Linked DNA regions of Homo sapiens. The protein of the gene in region 6 purifies or fractionates together with the protein of the main gene of each other region. This does not show direct contact. Each region holds a gene or a part of one and is shown on either strand. Other genes may lie near its edges. The genes, in order: ATL2, RTN3, ARPC1A, LMNB2, XRCC1, ARL6IP5 and ARPC2.

Region 1 (3,500 bases), on a different chromosome or scaffold from region 6:
TTTTTTTTTCTTTTCCCTGTAGAGTTGTTTGAACTCCTTATATAGTCTGGTTACTAATCCCTTATCAGACTAGTAGTTTGCAAATGTCTTCTCCCAGTCTGTGGGTTGCGTCTTCACTTTTCTGATGTGCAAAAGCTTTTTAACTTGATATGATCCCATTCGTTTATTTTTGCTTTGGTTGCCTGTGCTTGTAGGGTATTACTGAAGAAATCTTTTCCCAGACCAGACCAATTTCCTGGAAGGTTTCCCCAATGTTTTCTTCTTTTTTTCTTTTTGAAATGGAGCGTTGCTCTGTCACCCAGGCTGGACTGCAGTGGCGTGATCTCGGCTTGCTGTAACGTCCGCCTCCCAGGTTCAAGCAATTCGCCTGGCCTCAGCCTGGGCGACAGAGCAAGGCTCCATTTCAAAAAAAAAAAGAAAAGAAAACACTGGGGAAACCCTCCAGGACATTGCTCTGGGAAAAGATTTCTTCAGTAATACCCTGCAAGCACATTATCAAGTTAAAAGGTTTTGCACATCAAAAAAGTAGCTGGGATTACAGGCAGCTGCCACCATGCCTAGCTGATTTTTGTATTTTTAGTAGAGACAGGGTTTCACCATGTTGGCCAGGCTGGTCTCGAACTCCTGATCTCAGGTGATCTGCCTGCATCTGCCTCCCAAAGTGCTGGGATTACAGGTGTGAGCCATCATACCTGGCCACCAATGTGTTCTTTTAGTAGTTTCATAGTTTGGGTCTTAGGTTTAAGTCTTTAATCCATTTTGATTTGATTTTTGTATATGGCTAGAGATGGGGTCTAGTTTCATTCCTCTGCATATGGATATTCAGTTTTCCCAGCACCATTTATTGAAGCCACTGTCATTTTCTCAAAGTTTGTACTGAAGTACAACTTCCAGTACTGTGTAGAATAGCAGTGGTGAAAGTGGGTATCCTTGTTTTGTTTCAGATCTTAAAGGAAAGGCTTTCAATTTTTTCCCAGTTCAGTAAGATACTAGCTGTGGGTCTGTTGTATACAGCTTTTATTATGTTGAGATCTGTTTCTTCTGTACCTTTTGAGGATTTTTACCATGAAGGGATGTTGAATTTTATCCAGTGCTTTTTCAGCATCAATTGAAATGGTCATATGGTTTTTGTTCTTCATTCTGGTGATAACGATGTATCACACTCATTGACTGACTGATTGATTGATTGATTGGTGTATGTTGAACTGTCCTTGCATCCCTGCCTGACCCTAGGTGATGATGAATGATCTTTTTAATGTGTTGTTGAATTCAGTTTGCTAGTATTTTGTTGAGGATTTTTGCAACAGTGTTCATCAGGGATATTGGCCTGTAATTTTTTGCTGAGTCTTTGTCTGGTTTTGGTATCAGGGTAATACTGGCCTTGTAGTATTGGTTTGGAAATATTCCCTCCTCCTCTGGTTTTTGGAATAGTTGAGTAGGATTGGTATTAGTTCTTTAAATGTTTGATAAAATTCAGCAATGAAGCCATTAGCTTTCGGGCTTTTCTTTGTTGGGAGACTTTTTATTATGGCTTTGATCTCGTTACTTGTTATTGGTCTGTACGGGTTTTAGATTTATTCATGGATCAATCTTGGTAGGTTGTATATGTCTAGGAATTGATACATTTCTTCTAGGCTTTCCCATTTATTGGCATATAGTTGTTCATGGTAGCCTCTAATGATCCTTTGGATTTCTGTGGTATCAGTTGCAATGTCTCCTTTTTCATCTCTGATTTTATTTATTTGGGTCATCTCTTTTTTTCTTAGTGTGGCTAAAGGTTTGTTGACTTTGTTTATCTTTTTAAAAAATCAACTTTTTGCTTCATTGATCTTTTGTATTGTTTTTATTTCAATTTCGCTAACTTCTTCTAATTTTGGGTTTAGTTTGCTCTTCCTTTTCTGTTTTTTTAAGATGTATGGTTAGGTTGTTTATTTGAAGTGTTTCCTCTTTTTTGATGTAGGCACTTATTACCATATAGTTTCTTAGTACTGCTTAACGCTGTATCCCATATATTTGGTATGTTGTGTTTCCGTTTTCATTTGTTTCAAGAATGTGTTTATTTCTTTCTTAATTTCTTCACTGATCTAGTGGTCATTCAAGAGCCTATTGTATTAATATAATTTCCATGTGTTTGTATAGTTTCCAAAATTCCTCGTTATTGATTTTATTCCATTGTGGTCAGAGAAGATACTTGATATAATTTCAATTTTTTTGATTTTTTTTTTGAGACCAAGTGTCGCTGTTTTGCCCAGGCTGGAGTGCAGCGGAGCAGTCTCGGCTCACTGCAACCTCTACCTCCCAGGTTCAAGTGATTCTCCTGCCTCAGTCTCCTGAGTAGCTGAGACTACAGTAACGCACCACCATGCCCAGCTAATTTTTTGTATTTTTAGTAGAGATGGGGTTTCACCATGTTGGCCAGGCTGGTCTCAAACTCCTGACGTCAAGTGGTCCACCTGCCCTCAAGTGGTCCACCTGCCTTGGCCTCCCAAAGTGCTGGGATTACAGGCATGAGCCACTGCGCCCGGTCCTCTTTCTTTAGTTTCTAATAATACTTGCTTTATATATCTGGGTGCTCCAGTGTTGGGTGCATATATATTTACAATTGTTATATCCTCTTGCTGAATTGATCCCTTTATCATTATATAATGACCTTCTTTGGCTGATATAAATGTAGCTTCTTCTGCTCTTTTTTTTTGGTTTCCATTTGCATGGAGTATCTTTTTCCATACCTTTATTTTCAGTCTGTGTCTTTATAGATGAAGTGTGTATCACCATTTTTTAAAACCCATTCAGCCACTCTGTGCCTTTTAATTGGAGAGTTTAGCCCATTTACACTCAATGTTACTGATAAGTAAGGAGTTAACCTCTGTCATTTTGTTACTGTTTTCTGGTGGTTTTGTGGTCTTCCTACCTGCCTGTCTTCCTTTTAGTGAAGGTGATTTTCTCTGGTGGTATGTTTTAATTTCTTTTTATTTTTTGTGTATCTGTTGTATGTCTTTTGAGGTTACCATGAGGTTTGCAACTATAATATATTTATTTTAAACTGATAACACTGATTGCCTAAACAAACTAAATAACAAGGAAAGAGAAAACTAATAAAAATTCTACACTTTAACTTCATCCCCCCACTTTTTAAACTTTTCGTTGTTTCTATTGATAGTATACCGTCTATGTCTGGAAAAGTTGTGGTTGTTAATTAATATTTTTTATAGGTTCGTCTTTTAGTCTTTCTACTCAGGATATGAGTTGTTTACACACCACAATTATTGTTAATAATATTCTGTTTTTCTGTGTGTTTACTATTCCCAGTGAGTTTTGGACCTTCAAATCATTTCTTATTGCTCATTAAAATCCTTTTCTTTCAGATTGAAGAACTCTCTTTAACATTTATTGTAGGACAGGTCTGATGTTGATAAAATTCCTCAGCTTTTGTTTGAGGAAGTCTTTATTTCTCCTTCATGTTTGAAGTATTTTCACTGGATATACTATTCTAGGAAAAA
Region 2 (3,500 bases), on a different chromosome or scaffold from region 6:
GAGGGAGGAGTCAAGATGTTTCCCAGAAGGCTTGGCATGAATCAATATGCTTAAATACTTATGCAGATTCTGACTAATAAATGTTGTTATGATACATTAGGAAACCCCTTTCAGCACAGAGGCAAGCATACAGGAGACAGCAAGAATGGTCATGTCAATATGGCCTGCAAATGCCTGCTGACTTGGATTGTTTTTATTCTCCAAGAATAAGAAGTGTGTTTTGCTTTTTTTTTTTTTTTTTTGAGACGGAGTCTCGCTCTGTCGCCCAGGCGGGAGTGCAGTGGTGCGATCTCAGCTCACTGCAACCTCCATCTCCCAGGTTCATGCCATTCTCCTGCCTCAGCTTCCCAGTAGCTGGGACTACAGGTGCCCACCACCACGCCTGGCTAATTTTTTGTGTTTTTAGTAGAGACAGGGTTTCACCATGTTAGCCAGGATGGTCTTGATCTCCTGACCTCATGATCCGCCAGCCTTGGCTTCCCAAAGTGCTGGGATTACAGGCGTGAGCCACCACGCCCGGCCAAGAAGTTTTTTTTTAATGCTGTTTTTGTTTATTGTCAAATTCACAAGTAATGGAACCACTCTGATCAAATTAAACAACCAATCTACATACATTTAGTAGGTGCACCCTTACCCTAAATTGTCATTTCTAAGGGGTTGTTCATTAAGTGGCTGGTAAGAACCTCAGTGTTTTTATTCTTGGTGTTTTAAAGATGGGCTGAAAATAAAAACCAATATTACTGCTTTTATCAAATTATCCTGTGAGGAAATAATATATTTATCCTGATATAGGAGTTACCTGTCTAGTCCTGTGCATGTTTCAAGCCTTGTAAAATGAAGTTTGGTCATGAAGGAATTGGTGACGTCTGGTTGAAGGGAAAAGGGAAAGTTGAGCTTTCCAATTTTGTTTGAGTCAAGAGTATATTTTGCAGAAAGACACTTCTCTTTACCCATAATCCTAGAATTTACCATTTTTGTAATTCTGAACAGAATTACAAAGGCTTCATTAAGTAAGTAGGTTTTCTAATATAAATGTGCATATTTGTTGTGTGCACTTAGCTTATAGTTTGTGTTAACTTTATTGTTGATGATGAATTTAGCCTCCTAAAGTATACAAACTTGTGAAAAATTCATCAATTTTGTAGTATAACTTTTTCTCTTAATTTAGCTAATACTCTTTGTATTGTTCTAATTTTGGTATATGTGCTGCTGAAGTAAGCACTCATAGTAAAACTTTTTAGACAAAAATTAGCAGGTCGATATTTTGTTCTTATAATTGACTTATTCAGAAGTTGCCCAGAAAACTGACTTAACCTTCTATTCTGTTCATTTATGACAGCTACTAGTTGTAGAGTTATTTTGGATCATAGGGTATGGTGTTGATGTTTTGAAAGAAGTGTGTGTGTTAAATAAGTTTAGCTGTAATCAGTATTGCTTGTGATTGCATCATTGAAGTCTTCTGGGCATCTGTGAGTTTTGTAAGACATGTTACTCTGTGATATTGCAACCTCAGAGAGAATCTCTTTAAATACTGTAACGGGGTTTGCATTTCCATTTTACGTATGGGAGAAGATTATCAGCAAGTGGCCTGCTCTTGTGATTTTTTTTTTTTATTTCAAATAACTATTCTTACCTGTTTTCTCCAATCAACTGATTTATTATCTCCTATAACCATATCATTGTAACCTAACCAGAGAAGACAGTGAGCTTATCAGCAAGTGGCCCACTCTTGTGATTTTTGATTTTTTTTTTTTTATTTCAAAGAACTATTTTTTTGAGACAGAATCCCCCTCTGTTGCTCAGGCTGGAGTGCAGTGGTGGGATCTCTGCTCACTGCAACCTCCGCCCCCCGGGTTCAAGCGATTCTCCTGCCTCAGCCCCCTGAGTAGGTGGGATTGCAGGCTTGTGCCACCATGCCCAGCTAATTTTTGTATTTTTAGTAGAGATGGGGTTTCACCATGTTGGTCAGGCTGGTCCCGAACTCCTGACCTCAAGTGAACTGCCCCCGCCTCGGCCTCCCACAGTGCTGGGATTACAGATGTGAGCCACCACACCCAGTCTCAAAGAACTATTCTTACCTGTTTTCTCCAATCAACTGATTTATTATCTCCTGTAACCATATCATCATAACTTAACCAGAGGGAACGGTGAGCTTTTTGACCTGTTCCTCATTGGTAGCTCGCCCTTCAAGATATATGGAAGGACATTCTGGAAAACCTTTTGTTATGAAAATTGTGTCCTGTTATTTGAACATATTTCAGTGGAGGGCATTGTCTTTATTTTACGTATGAGATAGAAGTACTTGATTTTCACGATATCTTACATTTGTGTACTGCTTTATGATTTAAGTTGTGCCCATATGTTACCTTAATTCAACAACTGAGCATACATGAAGGCTCTTTGCCAGGTGCTGTGGAAGACAGAAAGGTAAATAAAATATAGATCATTCCTCTAGAGGCCATATTCTATAGAGGAAAGACTTGTATTATGTTTATCTGTGAGGTAGACAGGTAGCGATATAACCCCCTTCTTACAGATGGGGACTCAGGCACAGAGAGTTTAATGCCCACGCTTTAAGATTTGAAGCAACATGTAGTAAAAGTGGCTCAGTTACCCTTTTGAATTCAGTGATCAGTTTAATTTAAAAGTCTTAATTTCTGGCTCCACGGTTCTTAAGCCAGGTGCCTTTTTATTTCACTGCTCTACAGAAACTTTCTAGTCAAGTTCACCAGATATTTTCCACATTGTTAAATTCAGTGGTCACTTCATCCTCCTCTTAACATGCTTTCACAACAGCTTTTGACATAATTGATTATTCTCTCCTTGAAATGCTTTTTTAATTTGTCTTCTGTGACACCACATACTCACTCTCACTGGCTTTTCATCCTCTGTCTCCATAAAATTCACCATTTTAAGGTGGGTTTTAGTGTATGCACAAGGTTGTACAGCTATCTCCACTATCTAATTCCAGAACATTTTTATTACCCCAAAGAGAAACCCCATATCTGTTAGCAGTAATTCACCGTTCTTCCCTCCCCTCAATTCTCTGACAACTATTAATCTGCTTTCTGACTCTGTGGATTTCCTTATTCTTGAGATTTAATATTGCTAATTCTTTTTTTTTTTTTTTTTTTTTTTTGAGATGGAGTCTCACTCTGTCACCCAGGGTGGAGTGCAGTGGCACGATCTCTGCTCACTGCACCATCCGCCTCCTGGATTCAAGCGATTCTCCTGCTTCAGCCTCCCAAGTAGCTGGGATTATAGGCATGTGCCACCATGCCCAGCTAATTTTTGTATTTTTAGTAGAGGCAGGGTTTCACCATGTTGGTCAGGCTGGTCTTGAACTCCTGACCTCAGGAGATCCACCCTCCTTGGCCTCCTAAAATGCTGGGATTACAGGTGTGAGCTACTGCGTCCGACCTAATTATTTTTATTTTGATAGAGACGAGGTCTCACTATGTTGCCTAGGCTGGTATTGAACTCCTGGGCTCAAGCGATCC
Region 3 (3,500 bases), on a different chromosome or scaffold from region 6:
GCAATCTTACAAATTTCTACAGGAAACTTTTCTTCCAAGTTAAGCTTCAACCTCAGTAATTGTTTACATTTTTATTCGTTGAGAATTAGTGTCAAGTATAGGTAAATTGGACTTTATTATGGTACAAGGTATTGTCTTTGAACAAGCTGTATGTTTAGGGCAGTTTCTCAGCTGTAGAACAATTATTTCATATTTCATAGGAGTACTTTAAAACAACTTCTCAGAAGTTTATAATTCAGCCATATGAACTAATTATTTTGCTTGCCATCTTTTCCTTAATTAAAAAAATTACATTATAAAGGCCAGGCACGGTAGCTCACGCCTGCAATCCCAGCACTTTGCGAGGCCAAGGCAGGCGGATCACGAAGTCAAGAGTTCGAAACCATCCTGGCCAACATGGAGAAACCCCATCTCTACTAAAAATACAAAATATTAGCCAGGTGTGGTGGTGCATGCCTATAATCCCAGCTACTTGGGAGTCTGAGGCAGGAGAATCGCTTGAACCAGGGAGGTAGAGGTTGCAATGAGCCGAGACCATGCCACTGCACTCCAGCCTGGGCAACAGAGCAAGACTCTGTCTCAAAAAATATGTATACATTATGAAACAATTCGAAATACTGTCTTTTTCTCCTTTTTTAGAGACTTTGTGGGGGATTTTGGTTTTTTATTTTATTTATTTATTTATTTTTTGAGACAGGGTTTCTCTCTGTCACCCAGTCTGGAGTACAGTGGTACAAACACGGCTCACTGCAGTCTCCAACTCCTGGGATCCAGCAGTCTTGCCACTTCAGCCTCCCAAGTAGTTGGGACTACAGGTTTGCACCACCACACCTGGCTAATTTTTTGATTACTTGTGGAGACAGGTTCTCACTTTTCTTGCCCAGGCTGATCTCAAATTCCTGTACTCAAGCAATCCTTCTGCTTTGGTCTTCCAAAGTGCTGGGAGTATAGTTGCAAGCCTCTGCACCTGGCTGTCTTTTTCAGAATGAACTTCTTCAGACAGGATACTAAGAAAGTGATTCTGTAGCCAGGCGTGGTGGCTCATGCCTGTAATCCTAGCACTTTGGGAGGCTAAGGCAGGCAGATCACCTGAGACCAGGAGTTTGAGACCAGCCTGGCCAACATGGTGAAAGCTAATCTCCTCTAAAATTACAAAAATTAGCCGGGCGTGGTGGCGTGAGCCTATAATCCCAGCTATCGGGAGGCTGAGGCACAAGAATTGCTTGAACACAGGAGGCAGAGGTTGCAGTGAGCTGACATTGCGCCACTGCACTCCAGCCTGGATGACAGAGTAAGACTCTGTCTCAAAAAAATAAAAAATAAATAAATAAAAGAAAGTGATTCTTGCTTGACCCCGGGAGGTGGAGGTTGCGGTGAGCTGAGATCACGCCATTGCACTCCAGCCTGGACAACAAGAGCGAAACTCCATCTCAAAAAAAAAAAAAAAAGAAAGAAAGTGATTCTATAGAAAGGTAATTTAGCATTGAAGGAAAGGCATTGGCTCAATATTTAGTCTCCCAACTGTTGAGCAACCAGACGTGATTGGTTTTTAAACAGCAGTTTGGGGGCAGAAATGAATTAGTTAAGCCAAAATACTGACTGGTCCTAGACATAAATCATCTTTTTTGGATGGTGCTAGCGAATTAGAGGCTAATCCCCAACATGAGGTTCTTCTAATTTCTTGGTTGTGATTTTTCAGTGAAAGAAATTAAAAAGAATTTGCAGATTCGTGGAGACTTGGGAAGGATATTAAGCTGTCTTACAACCCCAAATTCACCAAAAATTCAGCAAATCACTGAATATTCATAATAAAAATTGAAGTATTTTCAAACTTCAGTTTTTATCTCAGAGGTTAACGTCCTATGTAATCCGAAATCTCACGAAAACATAACTGAGTTAATCAATATCTATGCTTACTAATGAGGACTGCTGAAAACCAGCTGTTGTGCTGAGAACATCAGGGCCAGGAGTGGAGAAGGCCTGTTCATGGTTCTTTTCCTTTCTGTCCTTTAGCAATGCACCTTGTCAGCTGGGCGTAGTGGCTCATGCCTGTAATCCCAGCACTTTGGGAGGCTGAGGCCGGTAGATCACTTGAGCCCCAGAGTTTGAGACCAGCCTGGGCAACATGGAGAAATCTCATCTCTACAAAAAATACAAAAATTAGCCAGTCTCAGATCATAACCTGGTATCAAAAAACCTTGTCTCTGGCAGAAGGCCTGGTGACCGACAGAAGAACGTTGAATGCTCTGTTACTTTTCTATAGAATCTTTTTTTATAGAAACCTATCTGAAAAAGTTTATTCTGAAAAAAATAATATTCTGAATTGTTTTATAATTTTTTTTTAAATTAAGGAAAAGTGTGGCCTACTTAGGTATTTTCACCTGACATACATTTGTAGGTCATTTGGGGATGCTGGTTGAGTGGATAAACTGAAACAGTTTTCCCCTCTCATAGGTGGGTGAGCAAGCACATTAAAAAGCCGATTCGCTCCACAGTCCTCAGCTTGGATTGGCATCCCAACAACGTTTTGCTGGCAGCAGGATCATGTGACTTCAAATGCAGGTGGGAACCAGTGAGAACTGATAAACTTGAGCCGTGCATTCTTCATCCTTCAACAAATAATTTTAGGTTCTCTTTCTTTGTTTTTTGTTTTGTTGTGGTTGTTGTTGTTTTGAGACAGGGTCTCACTCTCACCCAGGCTGGAGTGCAGTGGCACCATCATAGCTCACTGCAGCCTCCAATTCCTGGGCTCAAGCGATCCTCCAGCCTCAGCCTCCAGAGTAGTTGGGACTACAGGTATATGCCACCACACCTGGCTAATTTTTTTAAAATTGTCTTTATTCTTTGTAGAGACGGGGTCTTGCTACATTGCCCAGGTTGGTCTTGAACTCCTGGCCTCAAGTGATCCTCCCTCCTTGGCCTCCTGAAGTGCTGGGATTACAGGCATGAGCCAGTGTGCCTGGCCTGTAAGTTTCCTTTTCTTTGCAAGGTACTGCGCTAGGCACTGTGAGGGACTCAAAAATGAGGCCTGGTGCTGTGGCTCACACCTGTAATCCCAGCACTTTGGGAGGCTGAGGTGGGCGGATCACCTGAGGTTGGAAGTTCAAGACCAACTTGGCCAACATGGTGAAACCCCGTGTCTACTAAAAATACAAAAGAGGCCGGGCGCAGTAGCTCACGCCCGTAATCCCAGCACTTTGGGAGGCTGAGGTGGGCGGATCACAAGGTCAGGAGATCGAGACCATCCTGGCTAACACAGTGAAACCCCGTCTCTACTAAAAAAATACAAAAAATTAGCCGGGCGTGGTGGCGGGTGCCTGTAGTCCCAGCTACTCGGGAGGCTGAGGCAGGAGAATGGTGTGAACTCGGGAGGCGGAGCTTGCAGTGAGCCGAGATCACACCACTGCACTCCAGCCTGGGCGACAGAGCGAGACTCTGTCTCAAAATAAATAAATAAATAAAAGTTAGCCTGGTGTGGTCACAAATGCCTGTAATCCCAG
Region 4 (3,500 bases), on a different chromosome or scaffold from region 6:
GCCTCAGCCTCCCAAAGTTGTAGGACTGCAGCTGTGAGCCACTGCTCCCAGCAACATCCATCATGTATTCAGACTTCCTCAGTTTCCCCGATGTCCTTTCCTGCCCCAAGACCCCATCCACTATCTCACGTGACATTTAGTGACTACGTCACTGTCTCCCAGGCTCCTCCAGGCTGATAGTTTCCCCCACGTTCCTGGTTAGAGGTTCTGGTTGGTCCTGAGCGGGCTGGGCAGGTGTGCAGTAGGATGTTCCTCAATGGGGGTTTGTGTGTTGTTTTGCTCATCGTCACGCTGGGGCGATGGGATGAGTAATGTTTTAATGGAATATATATATATATGTGTATATATATATGTATATGTATATGTATTTTATTTTCTTTTTTTTGAGACGGAGTTTCACTCTGTTGCCCAGGCTGGAGTGCAGTGGCGTGATCTTGGCTCACCACAACCTCCGCCTCCCTGGTTCAAGCGATTCTCCTGCCTCAGCCTCCTGGGTAGCTGGGATTACAGGCATACACCACCATGCCCGGCTAATTCTGTATTTTTAGTAGAGACAGGGTTTCTCCATGTTGGTCAGGCTGGTCTCGAACTCCTGACCTCAGGTGATCCAACTGCCTTGGCCTCCCGAAGTGCTGGGATGACAGGCGTGAGCCACGGCGCCCAGACATATGTATATTTTTTTTGAGACAGGGTCTCTCTGTACCACCCAGGCTGCAGCGTAGTGGCGTGATCTCAGCTCACTGCAACCTCTGCCTCCCGGGTTCAAGTGATTCTCCTGTCTCAGCCTCCCGAGTAGCTGGGATTACAGGCGCCTACCACCACACCCAGCTAATTTGTGTTTTAATAGAGACAGGGTTTCACCATGTTGGCCAGGCTGGTCTCGAACTGCTGACCTCAAGTAATTCGCCCGCCTCAGCCTCCCAAAGTGCTGGGATTTCAGGCATGCACCAGCGCACCGGGCCCTAATGGATTATCTTTTAAAAATCAATTAATTCAAAAAATCTACAATGAACAAACTATTAATTCAAGTCAGGTGTCGTTTAGTGACAGGGATACCTTGTGGAAAGCGTGTCGTTAGGAGACGTGCCCCTTGTGTGGGCATGGTAGAGTGCACTCCCACACTCCCGGATGGTGGAAGCCACCACACACCCAGGCTTGGGCGTGGCCTCCTAGGCCACAGACCCACACCGCCCGCTCCTCTGTGGAATGCTGTGGGCACCGGTTACACAATGGTAAGTATGTGAGCATTTAAACACGAGAAAGGGCTGGGTGCGGTGGCTCCCGCCTATAATCCCAGTACTTTGGGAGGCTGGGGCAGGCAGATTGCTTGAGTCCAGGAGTTTGAGACCAGCCTGGGCAACATAGCAAGACCCCATCTCTTAAAAAAAAAGTTAGAAACTAATTAGGCAGGCATAGTAGTATGTGTGCCTATAGTCCCAGCTATTGGGGCAGCTGAGACAGGAGGATTGCTTGAGCCCAGAGTTTGAGGCTGCAGTGAGCTGTGATTGCGGCATTGCTCTCCAGGCTGGGTGTGGCTCTGTCTCAAAATAAGTAAATAAACACAAGAAAGGTGCAGTAAGAATATGGTATTAGATTCTTTTTCTTTTTATTTTTTGAAGTGGAGTCTGGCTGTCGCCAGGCTGGAGTGCAATGGCCCAATCTTGGCTCACAGCAACCCCTGCCTCCTGGGTTCAAGCAATTTTCCTGCCTCAGCCTCCTGAGTAGCTGGTATTACAGGTGCACGCCACCATGCCCGGCTAATTTTTTTGTATTTTTAGTAGAGACAGGGTTTCACCGTGTTAACAAGGATGGTCTTGATCTCCTAACCTCGTAATCCGCCCACCTCAGCCTCCCAAAGTGCTGGGATGACAGGGGTGAGCCCCCATGCCAGGTTTGCATTAGAGTCTTACAGGACCGCCGTGCACATGGTCTGGGGGTGCTCAGCATGCCTCTGTGCGTGTGGCTGCCATTGCAGAGTTGCTGTTTTTTCTCACCTTGAACGGGCTCCTGTGTGTCCCGGCGCTGATCTTGTCTTTGTTGGAAACTCTGCTGTTTTGTTCATCCTGGCCCCTCTGCCTCGTGAGCCGCAGTCAGCTCTCTCTCTGTGGGGACAGGAGAGCTCGTGTGTGACCCCCATCCTGAGGGTGTCCCGTCAGCCCCTCCCTTGAGGTTAGGGGTATTTGGGAGCTTTGAGGGAGAGGCAGACACCACCATGCCTGCACCTGGTGCCCAGCTGTTTGCAGCGTGGAGCTGGCCGCTTTTTCCTGATTTGGGTTTTTCTAGAAGTCTGTTCCCAGGACACAGATGTGGAGGGCACGGCCCAGATGATCGCCTGCATGGGAGGGAGGGCTTGGGGGTGGCCGGGGTGCCGCGGGAGGAGCTCGCTTTGCACTGCTGCCTCTGTGGGTCCCCGTCCTACAATTGGTCCCCGCAGACCTGATATGTCTAGGACCCAGCGGTGGTCAGGAGGCGGCTTTTTACTGACCCGTGCCTCAGTTTTCCCATACATAAAATCAGGTTGGGAACCCTTATCCCGCCCCACTGTAGGCTGACGGGACTTGGAGCTGCGGTGCTGGGGCAGCCTGAGACTCTGACTTGTCCAGATGGCCCAGCATGCGTTGGTTTGAGGCTGAGGGTCCCACCTCAGAAGAGGCCCGGTCACTGCCAAGGGGTGCGTCCTGGCAGGCCCCCAGCCCTCTGCACAGGAGCCTCGCCTGTAACATGGGGGTGTGGCCCTCCAGATGCAGGCCGACCCTGTACCCACCTTGCATAGACACCCTTGGCCCTGTAGGGCTGTGGGAACATCACGGCGTTCTAGCGGGTGGTGCTGGGCCTGGTTCCGCCTACCATCCTCCGGTCCTCCTTTTCCTCAGCGCCAGAGCCGGAGCAGTTAATTCCCGCCTCATAAGGTTCACCCAGCTCACCCGTAGGTTTCGCGTTTTCATATCTCCACAGCTGTGCCACCACCAATGTGTCCAATTTTAGAACGTTCATCCCCACTAAAAGAAGCCTGTCCCCCTCAGCGGTCACTCCCCGTCCCCTTCTCCAGCCCCGCTGCCCACACACCCGCTGCCTGTGTCTGTGCACTGGCCTGACCTGGACATTTCATGGAAATGGGATTACACACTGTGTGGCGTTTTGTGTCTGGCGTCTCATGAGTGTGACATCCTCAAGGGGCATCCACACTGTGGTGTCAGAACCTTGCTCCGTTACACAGCTGGGTCATGTTCCTGTGTGTGGATGGTGGAGGGACCGCATTGCTTTTATTTTTTTATTTATTTTTATTTTTCATTTTATTTATTTATTTATTTATTTTGAAACTGAGTCTCGCTCTGTCTCCCAGGCTGGAGGGCAGTGGTGCGATCTCGGCTCACTGCAAGTTCCACCTCCCGGGTTCATGCCATTCTCCTGCCTCAGCCTCCCAAGTAGCTGGGACCACAGGCGCCCACCACCACGCCTGGCTAATTTTTTGTATGTTTTTTTAGTAGAGACGGGGTTTC
Region 5 (3,500 bases), on a different chromosome or scaffold from region 6:
CCCCCCAAGTAGCTAGTGGGAGCCATCATGCCCGGCTAATTTTTAAATATTTTTTGTAGAAATAGGGTTTCACTGTGTTGCCCAGGCTGGTCTTGAACTCCTGAGGTCAGGTGATCCACCTGCTGCGGCCTCCCAAAGTGCTAGGATTACACATGTGAGCTGCTGTGTGTACCTGGCCTACTCTTTTTTTTTTGAAACGAGGTCTCACTTTGTCACCCAGGCTGGAGTGCAGTGGCACGATCTCAGCTCACTGCAGCCTTGTCCTCCCGGGTTCAAGTGATCCTCCTTCCACAGCCCCTCAAGTAGCTGGGACTACAGGCTTGCACCACCATGCCCAACTTTGCACTAGTCAGTGTGACAAGGTGAGAAAAAGAAAAAAGAAAACTATCTTTTTTCACAGATGGCATGATTGTCTATGCAGAAAATCCCAAGAGATCTAGACAAACTACAAGGTTTAGTAAGTGAAGGTCACAAGATGAGAAGTCAATATACAAAATAAACTGTATATTACACATCACTTCTGTGGTATTCTGGCCAAAGTGTGCAACCTAAATTAATCACAAGGAAACATCAGATACTTTGTACAATAAGTGATATCTGACAAAAATCACTGACCTCTACTCTTCAAAAACATCAAAGGCACAAACCCAAAGTCACAGGAGCCTTCCTTCCTTCCATTCTCCCTCCCCTCCTTCCCTCCCTCCTTCCTTTTTTTTTTTTTTTTTTTTTTTTTTTGAGATGGAATTTTGCTCCTGTTGCCCAGGCTGGAGTGCAGTGGTGCAATCTCGGTTCACTGCAACCTCCGCCTCCCAGGTACAAACGATTCTCCATCTTAGCCTCCCAAGTAGCTCGGATTACAGGCCTGTGCCACCATGCATGGCTATTTTTTTTGTATTTAGTAGGACAGGGTTTTCCCATGTTAGTCACCAGATGATAAATGCAGCTTCCCTGTCAGCTCCAAATCAGGCCTTTTATAAACAAGTATAGTCAAGGTCAGGAAGAAAACTTCCCTTCTGTATAATTGTCTTTCTTGTTTCCTTTGCATAATCAGCTGTGCACAAAGAGAGCTATAGTTATGTTCTGTTTTTCTCAGCAAAAGGCTTTATTGTCCAATTTTATAATTTCACAGCATGTCAGTTAGAAAAGAGACTAAGTCAGTAACAAAATATACCCAACCAAAAGTGGCTGCATTCATCTTTTTTTTTTTTTTTTTTTTTTTTGAGACGGAGTCTCGCTCTATTGCCAGGCTGGAGTGCAGTGGCGCAATCTTGGCTCACTGCAACCTCCGCCTCCTGGGTTCAAGTGATTCTCCTGCCTCAGCCTCCCGAGTAGCTGGGACTACAGGCACGCGCCACCATGCCCAGCTAATTTTTTTGTATTTTTAGTAGAGATGGGGTTTCACTATGTTGGCCAGGATGGTCTCGATCTCCTGACCTCGTGATTTGCCTGCTTTGGCCTCCCAAAGTGCTGGGATTACAGGTGTGAGCCACTGTGCCCAGTCTTTTTGTTTCGTTTTTTGTTTTTTGGCAGAGTCTTGCTCCGTCACCCAGGCTGGAATGCAGTGGCACAATCTCGGCTCACCATCACCTCCAACTCCTGGGTTCAAGCGATTCTTGTGCCTCAGCCTCTCGAGTAGCTGGGATTATAGGTGCCTACCACCATGTCCAGCTAATTTTTGTATTTTTAGTAAAGACGGTGTTTCACCATGTTGGCTAGGCTGGTCTTGAACTCCTGGCCTCTTGTCCACCAGGCTTAAGTGCAATGGTGCGATCTCAGCTCACTGCAACCTCCGCCTCCTGGGTTCAAGCAATTCTCGTGCCTCAGCCTCCCGAGTAGCTGGGACAACAGGCGTCTGCCACCATGCCTGGCTTAAATTTTGTATTTTTAGTAGAGATGGGGTTTTACCATGTTGGCCAGGCTGGTATTGAACTCCTAACCTCAAATGATCCGCCTGCCTTGGCCTCCCAAAGTGCTGGGATTACAGGCGTGAGCCACCGCGCCTGGCCTCAGCTTGGGTTTTTCAATGCAGATTGCTAACATGAATTGCTACTCTCAATTCCTTGAGAGAACAGACTTGTGAGGAGTTCTCCCGAGAAGAATTTTCACCTCTTCTTTGGTGTCCCCCCAAGCTAAGGCCAAGACAGACAGGCCTCCCAGGGACTCTTTCCACAGGCTTATTTCCCCTTCATGTAACTAGTGTGGGCGTTGCCTTTGGGGAGTCCTCAGTTCTATGCAGTGTGGTGAGGATCTCTGAGATGCCACTCTCCCTTGCTTGGAGCCTAGGTTTTCTCTCTTGTTCTCTTTCACCACCACGTGCATAACCCTTAAAGATCAAGTTCTAGCTGGGTGTGGTGGCTTACACTTGTACTTCTATAGCTTTGGGAGGCTGAGGTGAGAGGATCATTTGAGGCCAGGAGTTCAGGACCAGCCTGGGCAACATAGCAAGACCATGCCTCTACAAAAAATAAAAAATTAGCCAGGTGTGGTGTCGTGCATCTCTAGACCCAGCTACTCAGAGGCCAAGGTGGGAGAATCACTTGAGACCCAGAGGTCGAGGCTGCAGTGAGCTATGATCGCACCACTGTGCTCCAGCCTGGGTGACAGAGAAAGACCCTGTCTCTTAAAAAAATAATAATAATAAATAAAATCAAGTTATTTGCTATCTGGGATCAGCACCATGACAAACTACCAACATGAGTGCTGCCGGGTCAGTCAGGGTCCTTGCCCGGAGATTAAAACCACACCAGTTATTTTAACAGATAATTTGATAGAAAGAACCAGTAACTAGGTGTTACTAGAAGACTAAGATATGAGGGAGAAGCAACCGCAGGGAGTAGCTACCACTCCCAGGGTTGGGGGAACAAAAGAAAGGAGCAGGAATTATTGAAACGTAGATGTTTGGAAACTGGGAGGTGGGGCTCCAGGAGCTGAAATTCAGATCGTTTGAGGAGGGCTTCCTCCCCCACCGGCTGCTGAGAGGGGCTGAATGAGGCTGTTTCTGGAGGTATTGGGACACTGCAAACTGGATTCATCTGCTGCTGCAGGCAGGAACCACTGCAGCAGCAGAAGCTTAACTGGGGGTGATGCTCACAGGATCTGCAATGCACGAGAAGCTGGTCCTTCCTCCCTCCTGCAGCCTTGCAAACTCTCTCTCTTGCCCCCCCTATTGGCAGAGCCTGGTCACGATCAGCTAGGGAAGCAGAAAGGTGGTTTGCCAAGTGCGGGCCCAGATCACAGAGATGAGTTGTAGAGGGTAGGTTTGAGCTGAGAAACAATCACTTAATACTTAGTGCAGCTCGCCTGACTCTCTGGATTCTGTTTTCTCATTTCCAGCCTCTAGTAATTCCCCTTGCCTTTCCGCTGACTCACCTGTGCATTTCCAAAAGGTGTTTGAATATTGTGCCAGTTTACTGAATATTCTCTGCCGGGAAAGTTCCTTAGGACATGTAGCCCGCTGTATTGCCAGATATGGAAGACTCCATGGGAGAATTTAGATAAGG
Region 6 (3,500 bases):
GGCATGTGCCACCAGCCTGGCTAATTGTTGTATTTTTTTTTGTAGAGAAGGGTTTTTGCCATGTTGCCCAGGCTGGTTTCGAACTCCTGGGCTCAAGCAATCCTCCTGCCTTGGTCTCCGAAAGTGCTGGGATGACAGGCGAGAGGTATGGCTGGCACACCTTTGATACTATTTATGTAACTTTGTTTATCTGAACTTCTCTCCCCTCTCCGTCCAGCTTTTTTTTTTTTTTTTTTTTCAATGTTGCCTGCTACTTTTGGCCTTTGGTTGGTAGTTTCTGTTTCCTTTCCCTAGGTAAGGATTTACAATGATTCTAGGTAAGTGTGCAAATAAATGAGTGTATTTTGGATTCCTGGCCCCCTGTCTTAGAAAGGAGAAGCTCTCCATCAGCTTAGGGACAGAGAGCTCTGTACAGGAAATCCAGTTCAAAAAGGTCAAGACCCATTCTTGACCTACCCACTTAATATCTAATTAAGCATCAATATTGGAAATTTTGTATTTTTTATTTTTTGGACAAATGAATTCTATCCTTATCACTCAGCTTCAGAAAACTTAACCCTTAATACCATCCTCTGTCTCTTGAAATGAGCGTGGCTTCCTGTTTCTGAGAATGCCTTCACCCTTAATACCATCCTCTGTCTCTTGAAATGAGCGTGGCTTCCTGTTTCTGAGAATGCCTTCAAGCCCTGTAATTTTAGGCAAAACCTTCAGGCTAACAACTTCAGGTTTGCAAGCATTCATCATTGATATATGATAGGATTTCCTGGCCTTCCTTCTCGTTATGCAATTTGCTAAAGGAGACACCTGGAAGGCAGAAAGCCCTGCTTCTTCTAATCTGCTTCATATCTCATTGGTGCAGCTTCTCCTTGTCTCAGAGGAAAAAGAATGCAGAAATTGGGGGTTAGTGAGGGGTAAATAGACAGGAAACTTGTGAGAAGGAAGTCTGTGTTACCAAGCTCGTTAGCATTTGTCCAGCCCCTGTCTTCTCTCCACAGCTCTGTAAGAATTTGCCATGTGACAGTTCTCAGTAGCTTTTGTTTGTTTTGTTTTGTTAAGACAGAGTCTCTCTGCATCGCCCAAGCTGGATGCCATGGCAGGATCTTGGCTCACTACAACCTCTGCCTCCCAGGTTCAAGCGATTCTCCTGCCTTAGCCTCCAAGTAGCTGGGATTACAGGCACGCACAACTATGCCTGGCTAATTTTTGTATTTTTAAGTGATTACAGGCACACACAATTATGCCTGGCTAATTTTTGTATTTTTAAGTAGAGACGGGGTTTCACCATGTTGGCCAGGCTGGTGTCGAACTCCTAGCCTCAAGTTATCCCCCCACCTCAGCCTCCCAAAGTGCTGGGATTACAGGTGTGAGCCACTGTACCCAGCCTTTTTTTTTTTTTTTTAATTTTCTAAAATCATTCAAGAAGAACAGTTTGTAAACAAATATCTTTCCACTTCTGTTCCCCAAAAAGTATTGGTTGTTAAGAGTAACCATGGGTTGCTAATTGTGAAAGCAGTGATGAGCATACATGAAGATTCATTATACATTATTCTCTCTACCTATGTATATGTTAGTTTTCCATAATGAAAAGTTAAAAAGGGTTTTATGAAGTCTAATCAGAGCTTTGTACACAACTATTATTTGAAGCTCCGTCACTGTGGGAAGCGTCAGATTTATGGTTTCTAATCCGAGTCCAACCTGTTGTTTATTAAAAACAAAAGAAAATCTGGAGGTTCCTAAGGCATGTCTTAGTATGAACACTTTTAACATGCCAACTGTTAAAAAGACAATGGTTGGTTTGGATGCGAGTGTTTAATTTGTGCCAAATTACACAGGATACAGTAAATATTTAGGGAATGGCAAGAATACAATAAATCCTCTAGGCCTTCCTAATTCAGTTGGTTAGGAAAATCTCACTATGACCTTTCTGTAACAAAAGAGACAGGCTCCTGTTCAGTTTTACCTACTGTACAGTCTCCTTTATTCCATGATCCTTAGGCCAAGGAGACACTGTTCTCATTTACTCAAGACGAATTTGTGTCCAAAGCCCACATTTATGCCTATAGTCAAAAATAGCTCTCCACTTTGGGAGGCTGAGGCAGGCAGATCACTTGAGGTCAGGAGTTCGAGACCAGCCTGGCCAACATGGTGAAACATCGTCTCTACTAAAAATGTAAAAATTAGCTGGGTGTGGTGGCGCATGCTTTAATCCCAGCTACTGGAGAGGCTGAGGCAGGAGAATTGTTTGAACCAGGGAGTCAGAGGTTGCAGCGAGCCAAGATTGTGTCACTGCACTTCAGCCTGCCGACAGAGGGAGATTCTGTCTCAAAAAAAAAAAAAAAAGAAAAGAAAAGAAAAAAATTAAAAATTAGCCAGGCAAGCTGGCACTCACCTGTAGTCTGTAGTTTCAGCTACTCAGAAGGCTGAGGAAGGTCACTTGAGTGTGGGAGAAAGAGGCTGCAGTGAGCTATGACCATGCCATCATACTCCAGCTTGAGTGACAGAGGAAGAACCTTTCTTGAGGAAAGAAAAGAAAAGGCATATGGAGCTGTGCTCTGGTCAGAGAGACTGAGGAAAGGCTGGCTGAGCTGAGACTTGAAGGAGGGTGGAGTGAGGCCTGTGTGCAAAGTATCCTCTCTGCCTGATTCACCTCACCCTGAGATGGCAAAAGGCAAGGTGAGTTCTGGGGTAGATAGAAACCCTGAGTGGATGGGGGTGCAATCAGGAGATGGTGTGACAAACCTGGCAGGTAGGCCAGCTGCTAGCCCTGAGAGTTCCCTCATGCTAATTACTAAGGCACTTCTTCCTCTCCTAGCAGTTACAGCCAAAGCCAAATTTTGGCCTTGGCTTGTGGAGTGTGTGACCTGGATTCCAGGCCCCACTTACCCCCTCAGCCAGGCACCAACTCCACACCTATATACAGTGGCCCTGGCTGCAGAGGCAGGCAGGGGCCAGACCCTGCGAAGCCTTGTAGAATGTTTAAAGAATTCTGTTTTTAGTTTAAGAACAATGAAAAGAAAATGGTTGGGTGGGTTCATATTTGCAGTGATCCCTCTGGCTGATTAAGGACCACAGAGAAACATCGCCAATTTAGAGAAGTCCACCGTGAGTATATTGTTCCCCACTTTTTCGGTGAGTCAGCCTTCCTCAGAAACCACACTTCAAAAATAGCTTTTTCGGCTAGAAAATTGGAACTCAGTGCAAAGCTGCCTGTACTCCTCAGGAAATATTTTGCTGCCTCTTTGGTGGTTCTTTTTGGCCTTGCAGCCTGACAGGAGTCACCAAATGTGGCCTTGAGTTGATCCGAGGATTTCTGTTATGGCAAACTTTTATTGCCAACTTTGCAATTGGTGGCCTTGGACAAATTTATTAACTTGTATATTCTTTAGCTTGCTTACGTGTAAAATGAGGTGGGTTAGCAAGATCCTTCCTAGCTCTAAAATTTTGTGAGATTTTTTTTTCCCCTTTCAGTAACTTGTGGTAAAACTATAGACATAGCTACT
Region 7 (3,500 bases), on a different chromosome or scaffold from region 6:
CCCAAGTAGCTAGGATTACAGGCGCCCGCCACCATGCCTGGCTAATATTTGTGATTTTAGTAGAGACAGGGTTTTGCCATGTTGGCCAGACTGCTCTCAAAACTCCTGACCTCAGGTGATCTGCCCACCTTGGCCTCCCAAAATGCTGGGATTACAGGTGTGAGCCACCACACCCAGCAGTTTTTTTAAGGTCACAAAATGACAAGACTAGGATTTGGACCCAGTTCTGTTCGACTCAAAATAGAGTGCCCTACACTTATGTGTCATGCTGCATTTGGCAAGTCACGTCACTTCTTTGAATCTCCTTTTCCCTCTGCAAAACAGTAACCTTATCTAGCCTGCAGACTTCAAAGGTGGTTATGGAGATCAAATGAAGTAAAATGTTTTAAAAATTGTACAATATATACCAATAAAAGCTATTGGGGAGGTATATGTATGAACAGGTAGTTGGTTTTTCTACCCTGCCACCTCATAAAGAGTTTGCAGTGGCACGTAGAAGGGTTTATCTTATTATCACAAAGCTACCCATTTGCTGGCCATACTGATACTTGGCACATTAAACTATCAGAGAAATATATGTGGCTCCTTTACAACTGTGTCTAGAAGGGTACATTTCCAATCAGAGTTCCCAGGTTCTGACTTTCTCCCATTACATATTTGTAATTAGTCATCTTTGATACTGATTCAAATTTTTGATTAACATTAATTATATATATTTACAAGAATCTTATAAAAATTAAGATTTTATTTCACCTCATTTTGCCCTGTGAGATAGATGGAAATAGACTATATTCTACCCAGGTTAAAAGTACAGATAATGAGACAAAATGTCAATAGAACCTGAAAAAAGATTTTTTTAGTTGCCTCTAGTCTCTGTTTACTTGGTATAGATAGTATGCTGCTTTTTTTTTTTTTTTTTTTTTTAAATGTAACTGCTGGGTTGTTTTTTGTTTCTTGTTTTTTCTTTCCCTCCAGGATACAATGTCTCTTTGCTATATGACCTTGAAAATCTTCCGGCATCCAAGGATTCCATTGTGCATCAAGCTGGCATGTTGAAGCGAAATTGTTTTGCCTCTGTCTTTGAAAAATACTTCCAATTCCAAGAAGAGGGCAAGGAAGGAGAGAACAGGGCAGTTATCCATTATAGGGATGATGAGACCATGTGAGTATAGAATTTGGTCCTGAAGCCTGGATATGGCTGCTACACCACCATGGCACTTACTGAAAGAAATATGGCTTGGTCAAACTTTCAGCTGTATTGCGTGAAAATGTTTTTCTCATAAAATGTCTTAAGCCAGGAAGTAGATGATAGGGCAGAAATCAGCCACTCCTCCTACTCTCCAGATACTGAGAGCTGACAGATGGTGGAAAGAGAATCCAGTGCTTTCCTTTAAGGCACCACTGTTCTGAGTCATGTTTAAGAGTATAGCCTGGATAATCAGCAGGCAGGGTGACCATAGGTCCATGTTATATTTACAAGTCAATAAAATCTACTTCTGATAATTTCCATCTGCTGCCTCTCTTAGGGCATTCATTTTGTGCACTGACTTTGTTGACCATAAATATCATCTCATTTGGCACACCTTTATATTATGATTTAAGAGATTTATGACTTTAGCCTTCTGATGTACTTGTAGATCAAGTTATTGACAAAACCCCATTCTGATTCTGTACTTATCCTCATGGATTTTGTTCCTCTCAGGTATGTTGAGTCTAAAAAGGACAGAGTCACAGTAGTCTTCAGCACAGTGTTTAAGGATGACGACGATGTGGTCATTGGAAAGGTGTTCATGCAGGTATGGAGCAGACATCTTGGGGGAAACCCATGCATGGCGACTTATACCTTTGCACCCAAACATACCATGAGCGTAGGAAAGAGATCTAGCAACTCTACTGATGTTAGAATTTTTTTTTTTTTTTTCGAGACGGAGTTTCTCTCTTGTTGCCCAGGCTGGAGTGCAATGGAGTGATCTCGGCTCACTGCAACCTCCGCCTCCCAGGTTCAAGCAATTCTCCTGCCTCAACCTCCTGAGTAGCTGGGATTGTAGGCATGCACCACCACACCCAGCTAATTTTGTATTTTTAGTAGAGACGGGGTTTCTCCATGTTGGTCAGGCTGGTCTCAAACTGCCGACCTCAGGTGATGCCCATCTCGGCCTCCCAAAGTGCTGGTATTACAGGCATGAGCCACCATGCCCAGCCTTGACGTTAGAATTTGTTGAAGATTTAATAGACAACTCCCACAAAACTCAGTGAATATTTTTTGTTGCTGCTGCTGTTGTTTTGAGGTGGAGTCTTGCTCTGTCGCCAGGCTGGAGTGTAGTGGCACGAACTCAGCTCACTGCAACCTCCGCTTCCTGGGTTCAAGCAATTTTCCTGCCTCAGCCTCCCAAGTAGCTGGGATTACAGGCACGCGCCACCACGCCCAGCTAATTTTTGTACTTTTAGTAGAGATGGGGTTTCACCGTGTTGGCCAGGATGGTCTCAATCTCCTGACCTCATGATCCGCCCGCCTCAGCCTCCCAAAGTGCTGGGATTGCAGGCATGAGCCACCGCGCCCAGCCTGATATTTTTTTTCTCAGTGGTTTAGTTTTGCAGGACAGAACTAAAGGGTAAGTTGAGAATTAAACATACTAACTATGAATGAATGTTATGCATCCTTCCTACTGTGGGGTCTTTGACCTAAAACTTTGTCAGGTTTCCTAACCCTAACCTCTTGTGTTTCCTCAGATTTCTAGTAAGGTGGCTGCTCTTGGTTTGGTCCTAAGGTCTTTTCAGAATGGACTGTATAGCCAATTATTTGGTAGTAGATAACGCATGAACAGGTAGAGTTGTTGAACTGACAGACTGAGCCTGAGTTTGGATGGGTCACCATAGAGTACTTCCCTCACAAGAAGCTCATCTTAAGAAGAGTCATGAGAGGCCAGGCGCGGTGGCTGACGCCTGTAATCCCAGCACTGTGGGAGGCCGAGGTGGGCGGATCACGAGGTCAAGAGGTCAAGACCATCCTGGCCAACATGGTGAAACCCCGTCTCTACTAAAAAAATACAAAAAATTAGCCGGGTGTGGTGGCAGGCACCTGTAATCCCAGCCACTTGGGAGGCTGAGGCAGGAGAATCTCTTGAACCTGGGAGGCAGAGGTTGCAGTGAGCCAAGATTGCACCATTGCACTCCAGCCTGGGCAAAAAGAGCGAAACTCCGACTCAAAAAAAAAGAGAGTCCTGAGAGTTAGCAGGGCATTTTGTAATTGGATTTTTGGTGTAGTTGCATTCAGGTCATTGTGTACCAGTCTGCTGGCCAGTTAGTTGCTGCCTCTAGGATGGACATGAGAGTTCATTGGTCAAGTGACATTCAGGCTGGTTTCTTCTGAGATGGCTCAGCATTCAAAATCTAGTACAATGGTAAAATTTTTTGAAAACGTTACTACCTTCATTCTGTTCCTTGGCAGGGTGGTAAAGATTTTTAAATTCTGAAGCAGAATCTCTTTTGCCAAATAGAGT

The links.
Region 1: the proteins of ARL6IP5 (region 6) and ATL2 purify together in Homo sapiens (affinity purification with mass spectrometry; one large-scale study listed by BioGRID and IntAct). This does not show direct contact.
Region 2: the proteins of ARL6IP5 (region 6) and RTN3 purify together in Homo sapiens (affinity purification with mass spectrometry; one large-scale study listed by BioGRID and IntAct). This does not show direct contact.
Region 3: the proteins of ARL6IP5 (region 6) and ARPC1A purify together in Homo sapiens (affinity purification with mass spectrometry; one large-scale study listed by BioGRID and IntAct). This does not show direct contact.
Region 4: the proteins of ARL6IP5 (region 6) and LMNB2 purify together in Homo sapiens (affinity purification with mass spectrometry; one large-scale study listed by BioGRID and IntAct). This does not show direct contact.
Region 5: the proteins of ARL6IP5 (region 6) and XRCC1 purify together in Homo sapiens (affinity purification with western blotting; one study listed by BioGRID). This does not show direct contact.
Region 7: the proteins of ARL6IP5 (region 6) and ARPC2 purify together in Homo sapiens (affinity purification with mass spectrometry; one large-scale study listed by BioGRID and IntAct). This does not show direct contact.

The regions. Positions count from the first base shown.
Region 1 is NC_000002.12:38,304,274-38,307,773, reverse strand, and holds part of ATL2 (atlastin-2), read left to right. Parts: intron 1-3,500. UniProt on the Homo sapiens protein: Atlastin-2 (ATL2) is a membrane-anchored GTPase that mediates the GTP-dependent fusion of endoplasmic reticulum (ER) membranes, maintaining the continuous ER network. It facilitates the formation of three-way junctions where ER tubules intersect.
Region 2 is NC_000011.10:63,688,000-63,691,499, forward strand, and holds part of RTN3 (reticulon-3), read left to right. Parts: intron 1-3,500. UniProt on the Homo sapiens protein: May be involved in membrane trafficking in the early secretory pathway. Inhibits BACE1 activity and amyloid precursor protein processing. May induce caspase-8 cascade and apoptosis.
Region 3 is NC_000007.14:99,346,398-99,349,897, forward strand, and holds part of ARPC1A (actin-related protein 2/3 complex subunit 1A), read left to right. Parts: intron 1-2,454; coding exon 2,455-2,562; intron 2,563-3,500. UniProt on the Homo sapiens protein: Probably functions as a component of the Arp2/3 complex which is involved in regulation of actin polymerization and together with an activating nucleation-promoting factor (NPF) mediates the formation of branched actin networks.
Region 4 is NC_000019.10:2,446,960-2,450,459, reverse strand, and holds part of LMNB2 (lamin-B2), read left to right. Parts: intron 1-3,500. UniProt on the Homo sapiens protein: Lamins are intermediate filament proteins that assemble into a filamentous meshwork, and which constitute the major components of the nuclear lamina, a fibrous layer on the nucleoplasmic side of the inner nuclear membrane.
Region 5 is NC_000019.10:43,555,028-43,558,527, reverse strand, and holds part of XRCC1 (DNA repair protein XRCC1), read left to right. Parts: intron 1-3,500. UniProt on the Homo sapiens protein: Scaffold protein involved in DNA single-strand break repair by mediating the assembly of DNA break repair protein complexes. Negatively regulates ADP-ribosyltransferase activity of PARP1 during base-excision repair in order to prevent excessive PARP1 activity.
Region 6 is NC_000003.12:69,091,437-69,094,936, forward strand, and holds part of ARL6IP5 (PRA1 family protein 3), read left to right. Parts: intron 1-3,500. UniProt on the Homo sapiens protein: Regulates intracellular concentrations of taurine and glutamate. Negatively modulates SLC1A1/EAAC1 glutamate transport activity by decreasing its affinity for glutamate in a PKC activity-dependent manner.
Region 7 is NC_000002.12:218,237,689-218,241,188, forward strand, and holds part of ARPC2 (actin-related protein 2/3 complex subunit 2), read left to right. Parts: intron 1-975; coding exon 976-1,162; intron 1,163-1,702; coding exon 1,703-1,796; intron 1,797-3,500. UniProt on the Homo sapiens protein: Actin-binding component of the Arp2/3 complex, a multiprotein complex that mediates actin polymerization upon stimulation by nucleation-promoting factor (NPF).